Homo sapiens: one gene and its partner. The protein of the gene in region 1 purifies or fractionates together with the protein of each later gene. This does not show direct contact. Each region holds a gene or a part of one and is shown on either strand. Other genes may lie near its edges.

Region 1 (2,954 bases):
CTAAGCAAGAGAGTATCTCTAGGCCGGGCATGGTGGCTCATGCCTGTAATCCCAGCACTTAGGGAGGCCAAAGCAGGCGGATTTCCTGAGGTCAGATGTTCAAGACCATCCTGGCCAACATGGTGAAGCCCAGTTTCTACTAAAAATACAAAAATTAGCGGGTGTGGTAGCGCACGCCTGTAATCCCAGATACTTGGGAGGCTGAGGCAGGAGAATCGCTTGAATGAGGGAGACAGAGGTTGCAGTGAGCCAAGATCGTGCCATTGTACTCCAGCCTGAGTGACATGAGCGGAACTCCATCTATATCTATCATCTATCTATCTATCTATCTATCTATCTATCTATCTATCTATCTCAAGTGACCACTTCACCCCCTCCCTGTACTCTGTACCCAACCCCTGTCACCATCTCTAGCACCAGCCCCAGTTCCCAGACCTTTGGGGGTCAACGTAGAAACATCAGCCAAATCAATCTTAAACTCAGCTAGAGATACAAAAGAATCAGAAACATATCGAAAACTTTACTAGAAATATAGAGAAAAAAAAATAACTGCCTGGGAGGTTTCCTGTCCCTTCAGGATGGATGACCAACAGATGGGGCACCTAGGTCCAGTGGGGCTGCTCCCGATCTACTGTTTCTTCCTCCAGGAGCAAGGCATCTAGCTCCTCCAGCCGCTGCTGGAGCAGGGGGCCCACATCAGGGCTGGGGGCCACATTGGGAGGAACAGTCCTGCCCCCTGCAGCCCGGACCCCACGGGACGGTCTTCGTGATCGAGGAAGGCTGCTGTCCCGAAATTCCACAGCCCGCCGGAGCTTCCTTGAGCTGGTGAAAATCAGAGTCCCATTGCGCTCCCGGGGTTCCTCAAAGATGGTCTCAAAGGTCCTGAACAAGGCAGGGAGAGGAGCTGGTTTTATCAGGGTGCTCCACAGCTCCAGATTTCCCTCTGCCACCCTCTAGCCTTCCAAGTGTCTCACCTCCTGGTTGTGGGTGATTGGTAATTCTTGTTGGTGTAAATTTCTTCCAAGCTGAACTCCTTCTTGTTCAACCTGTGAGCAAAGAGCAGAGGCCACTGAGAAACCTTGGGCCAGTGGGGCCTGAAGGGACAGGTAAGGCCTGGTCTGTATTTCAGTTTCTGGGACATGTCAGGGCCAGGAGTGCTACATAAGGCAGACAGGCAATTTTGAGCACAAACCATCCCCACACCGAATTGAATCTTTCAGGCTGGACTGTGCTCCCTGAGGGGAGACAAAGCTATACTTCAGGGGACATAAGCCTGCATCTGTTTGGCCAAGATGGCTCAATGCCCAGTGAGCCCCTCACCTGATTGGTCGAGGCAGTCCCATTGGTGTAAGGTTTAGCTGAGGACGGGCTGGTGTTCTGCGTATTCTGAATCGAGAAACCTTTCCCATGGTCTGCAAAAATGGGGCAGAGGGTGAAAGAGTGACATGGGCTCAGGCCCCCACTAGTCTCTTCTACCCGATCTGAATGCCTACCTTGGTCTCAGGTTCTGAAAGCACCTGGTCCTTTGAGGCTCTTGGCTCCTTCCCTTTGGTTGAACCCAACCTGCCAAGAAGGTCAAGGCTCAGGGACAAACAGGATTCACTGCATTATCCCCCGTCTCCTGCCCACTGGATACTCAGGGAAGGAGGCTGGGACCAGGCTGCAGCCAGGCTTCAAGGGGGTTTTTTGAGAGCACTACCTGGGTTCTGCTGGTTCGGAGAAGGAAGTGGATGCCGTGGACGAGCAAGATGTGGTGAGAGAAGGGGAGGCTCCCACTCCTCCGAGAGGGAAGACCTCTTTCCGGAGACAGGGCCGAGGGGGTGGCGGGGCTCGGGCCATTTCCCCACCACCCACAGTGTGCCGCCGCGGCCGTGGTCGGCTTGGTTGGGGTGGAGCAGGTGGCCAGGTGCAGGTACCTGGGCCAGGGGGCCCCAGATCAGGGCAGGAGTAGCTTCGGCCCAGAGAGGGCTTAGGGAGAAGTGCTGGGGTATTGTGGTCCTGAGTTCGCCACTGGCGGATTGGGGGCCGGGGGCTGACAGACGCAGTGCCCTCAGCAGCCCCAGACTGCTCGGCCTCTGAGATGGCGATCTTCAACTCCAGCTTCATTGGGGGGGACGGGGGTGGGGGCTGTGGGGTTTTGTTGGGCGTGAGGAAGATGTCAGCAAAGCTCTCCAGCTTGGAGCGGACGGAACGGAAGAGCGGGGCCAAGCCCCAGGGACTGAGGCGGGGGCGTAAAAGGCTGGACGGTGGTGGGGTGGATGGGAGCTCCAGAGCAGGATCTGGGGCTGAGGAAAGGAGAGGGTCACAGGTGGATATTCCTTGGCTGCAGTGTCTCAGCCCCTCCCCACATGCTCAACTTTGTGCACAGGGGAATTAGCCCACCCTTAAAACACTAAGTTCTGCATTTAAGAATTGAACTTCAAGCCTCTGACATCAACATCCCATCTTTATATACCAAGCCCTGCCCTGGGAGGTGGCTTAAGCCCTATCCCCAACTCTGTACCTGACACTTCCAAGCTCAACTAGGATGTCCCAGACACCCAAGTCTCATCCGATCTCTACCCAAGTCCTTACCTGTTGGTGGGCTCTCCAGAGGGTCTGCAGGCAGAGCAGATGGCTGGAATGGGGGTTCTAGGTCCCCAGGTGGAGGCGTTGGCTGGCGAACTATCCTCATGGGCTCAGCTCTGGGGTGAAGGGCAAGGTAAAGGCTAGGGGAACTTCCAGGTATCCCACCTGAGCCAGCAACTCCCCTATCCCTTAAGGCTTCTTCTTTTTTTTTTTTTTTGAGACAGAGCCTTGCTCTGTGGCCCAGGCTGGAGTGCAGGGGCACAATCTCAGCTCACTGCAGCCTTGAACTCCCAGGCTCAGGCAGTCCTCCCACCTCAGCCTCCCAAGTGGCTAGAACTACATGCATGGACCACCACATCCAACTAATTTAAAACAATATCTTGTCT
Region 2 (3,500 bases), on another chromosome or scaffold:
ACCAAGTAAGCATTTGCTGTCACTTAGTGGTTGTAGGGCCAGCAGCCATGCTGATAGCAGTGGAGGCAGCAGCCAAGACCCTCATGGCAATAGCGTGGTGGTTGTAGTTGTTAATACAGCACATCCACCCTCAACAACCTGTTCTTTGTAGCATTGATTTATTTTATTTATTTATTTATTTTTGAGATGGAGTCTTGCTCTGTCACCCAGACTGGAGTGCAGTGGCACCATCCTGGCTCACTGCAGCCTCCACCTCCCAGGTTCAAGTGATTCTCCCACCTCAGCCTCCCAAGTAGCTGGGACTACAGACATGAGCCACCACTCCTGGCTAATTTTTGCATTTGTAGTAGAGATGGGGTTTCACCATGTTGGCCAGGCTGGTCTTGAACTCCTGACCTGAAGTGACCCACCCGCCTCAGCCTCCCACGGTGCCGGGACTACAGGTGTGAGCCACCGCGCCTGGCTTGCATTGATTTTTTTTTTTTTAATCGCAACAATGACAACAAAGCCCCTGGAGTGTCGCCATGTTTCTTGTGTGTAATTTAGTTTAGTATGTAAGTCAGCACAATTCATAACTGACTTCCAATCCCCGCCCATTGCAAAGAAAAAAATGTTCTTTTAAGTGTTTTCTAAGTACAACTTGGGTTTTATTACAAAGTGGATTAAGAAGGAATTATGATTTGAGGGTTACGTTTTTTGGGATTTATTTGTTTTTAGCTACTGGCACCTGTTGCTCACAGTCCTGCGGGTCGAGCAGGTCCTGCTGCGCAGGCTTTCGCTGGTGTCTGCTGGGGGATCGGGGCTCTTACAGGGCTGCAGTCCCATGGCAGCTGGGACTAGAGTCACCCAGAGGCTCAGCTGGAACAATTTGGCCTCTTTCCCTCTCCATGCGTGTCAGAGCCTGAGAGCTAAGCATTGATTAAGCTGTTTTATGCTCATTTTATTTTCTCTTTCAAAGCTCTGTGTTGCCATTATTAAAATTAATTTTTCTGTCCTCAGGGAATAAGATGAAAAGAAACTGACATTTATAGGAAATCAAGTATTGCCATTATTGTCCTCTTTATAATTTTGTCTTAACTATATTTGTTCAAGTTTCAATGTTTTTAATTCAGTTTCTGAGCAAGGTCGTTTTTGGCTACTGTCAGCTGGAGACAGTGAGTGGAGTGGCCTCTGTGGCTATGTGAGAGCCACTGTGAAGAAAGTCTCGGGATGTGTGGCTGTCAGAAAACAAGTAACGCGGAATGAGCAGGCCTTGCATTTTAGACCTTAGGGATCCTGTGCGATGTGGGACTGTTGGAATATGGAGCAGCCTGAGAGTGGAGAGGCGAGGGCTCAGCAGGAATGCGTGCTCCCAGGCTCACCGTGCGGTTTTCTTTATAGGACAATACATGGCTTGATATACAACGCCCTGAAGCTCTTCATGGAGATGAACCAAAAGCTATTTGATGACTGTACACAACAGTTCAAAGCAGAGAAACTAAAGTGAGTTGTTCCTTTCACAAGTTACTGTTTCCAGGATTTTTTTCTTAATCCTAAGTAAACCTCTTCCACTGTTTTGTCCTAAAACGGTATTCTTCACTCGAAAGCAAAACCAAGCCTTTCATACTTGGAAAGCAAATTAAAACTGTGTTATAATAACGTATTTTGAAAGAACAGGTGTTTAAAGGTAGCTATTCTCCCCCCTTGTATTGCCAGATTAATCATCTTTGCAAAAAGTGCTTATGTAAGCAAGAATTTAACATTCAGAATTTTTTCTTTTCTTGGGCTATAATGGGCTTAAAGGCTATAATGTGTAGTCCATTTTCATGTTTATAAGGCAGGGATTTGAATTATATCCTATAAGGTTTATCCCAGAGAGCAAGAATCTTCATTTCAATGTAGCTTTATTCTGATTTAATGAACTCAGCGATGTGGGTGTTCTCTGGAATCTAGTCTGTCCTTTGCAAAATCAGGGTCCTGCCCTCGTGCCTTTGAGCCCACATGTGTCCAGGGATGATCTAAGTGACAAAGTACTTCGTCCCTAGGCTGTGCAAGTAATAATGTGATTAAATAGTTGTTGGAGGTCACTTCTTCCAAGTTGAGTATGGACTATTGGCAGATTTTATTTTTTGCTTGTCACTTAAAACTGGCTAAGGTAGATAAGCTTTGCACGAATGTAATTCAAAATACACTGTATACATATGTGTGTATCTATGTGTGTGTGTGTGTGTGTATATATATGAAACAACTGCCATTTAGTCATTCCTTAGACAAATATGTGAATATTTACCTTATACACCAGGCCCTGTTTTAGATTCTGGCAATATAGCAATGAATAAAACCCACAAAAATCCTTGCCCCTGGGCCGGGTGCGGTGGCTCACGCCTGTAATCCCAGCACTTTGGGAGGCCAAGGCGGGTGGATCACAAGGTCAGGAGATTGAGACCATGCTGGCTAACACGGTGAAACCCCATCTCTACTAAAAAATACCAAAAAAGGGCCAGGCGTGGTGGCTCATGCCTGTAATCCCAGCGCTTTGGGAGGCCGATGCAGGCAGATCACGAGGTCAGGAGATCGAGACCATCCTGGCTAACACAATGAAACCCCGTCTCTACTAAAAATACAAAAAAAAAGGCCGGGCATGGTGGCTCATGCCTGTAATCCCAGCACTTTGGGAGGCCAAAGCAGGCAGATCACCTGAGGTCAGGAGTTCGAGACAAGCCTGGCGAACACAGTGAAACCCCGTCTCTACTGAAAATACAAAAAATTAGCCGGGCGTGGTGGCAGGCGCCTGTGGTCCCAGCTACTCAGAGTCTGAGGCAGGAGAATGGTGTGAACCTGGGAGGCGGAGCTTGCAGTGAGCTGAGCTCACACCACTGCACTCCAGCCTGGGAGACAGAGAGAGACTCCGTCTCAAAAAAAAAAAAAATACAAAAAAAAATCAGCCGGGTGTGGTGGCGGGTGCCTGTAGTCCCAGCTACTCGGGCTGAGGCAGGAGGATGGCGTGAACCTGGAGGCGGAGCTTGCAGTGAGCCAAGATCACGCCACTGCACTCCAGCCTGGGCGACAGAGCGAGACTCCGTCTCAAAAAAAAAATCCTTGCCCTTTTGGGGTTTATATTCTGGGTAGTGTGGGGAAATAAAAGAACACAAAATACACCTAAGTGAACTATAGAGCATGAGAGATGACAAGTCAGTCAGGAAAGGGCCGGGGAGACAGACCAGCCATTCCTCTAGAGCTGCCAGCTGCATGGTCTGTTCTCATCTCAGCTCTCAGTGCAGTTCGCAGGTAGGAAGCATGCAAGCAGCAGGGCCTTCTGATGGCAGATCCTCCTCTCGTGGAATCCCACAGCTTTCCCAACAGGACCTTAAAGGTTGTGTAGTACATTTTCTGGGTTGAAAAACTTGGATCCTGGCCGGGCGCAGTGGCTCACACCTGTAATCCCAGCACTTTGGGAGGTTATGGCTGGTGGATCATTTGAGGTCAGGAGTTCGAGACCAGCCTGGCCAATATTGTGAAAC

What was found. The genes of interacting proteins can lie anywhere in the genome.
Region 2: the proteins of PRR14 (region 1) and PPP2R5C purify together in Homo sapiens (affinity purification with mass spectrometry; 2 studies listed by BioGRID and IntAct, with this or other methods). This does not show direct contact.

What each region holds. Positions count from the first base shown.
Region 1 is NC_000016.10:30,653,960-30,656,913, reverse strand, and holds the end of PRR14 (proline-rich protein 14), read right to left. Parts: intron 2,685-2,954; coding exon 2,575-2,684; intron 2,286-2,574; coding exon 1,700-2,285; intron 1,564-1,699; coding exon 1,494-1,563; intron 1,413-1,493; coding exon 1,321-1,412; intron 1,047-1,320; coding exon 975-1,046; intron 883-974; coding exon 603-882; 3' UTR 501-602; downstream 1-500. UniProt on the Homo sapiens protein: Functions in tethering peripheral heterochromatin to the nuclear lamina during interphase, possibly through the interaction with heterochromatin protein CBX5/HP1 alpha. Might play a role in reattaching heterochromatin to the nuclear lamina at mitotic exit.
Region 2 is NC_000014.9:101,908,209-101,911,708, forward strand, and holds part of PPP2R5C (serine/threonine-protein phosphatase 2A 56 kDa regulatory subunit gamma isoform), read left to right. Parts: intron 1-1,380; coding exon 1,381-1,482; intron 1,483-3,500.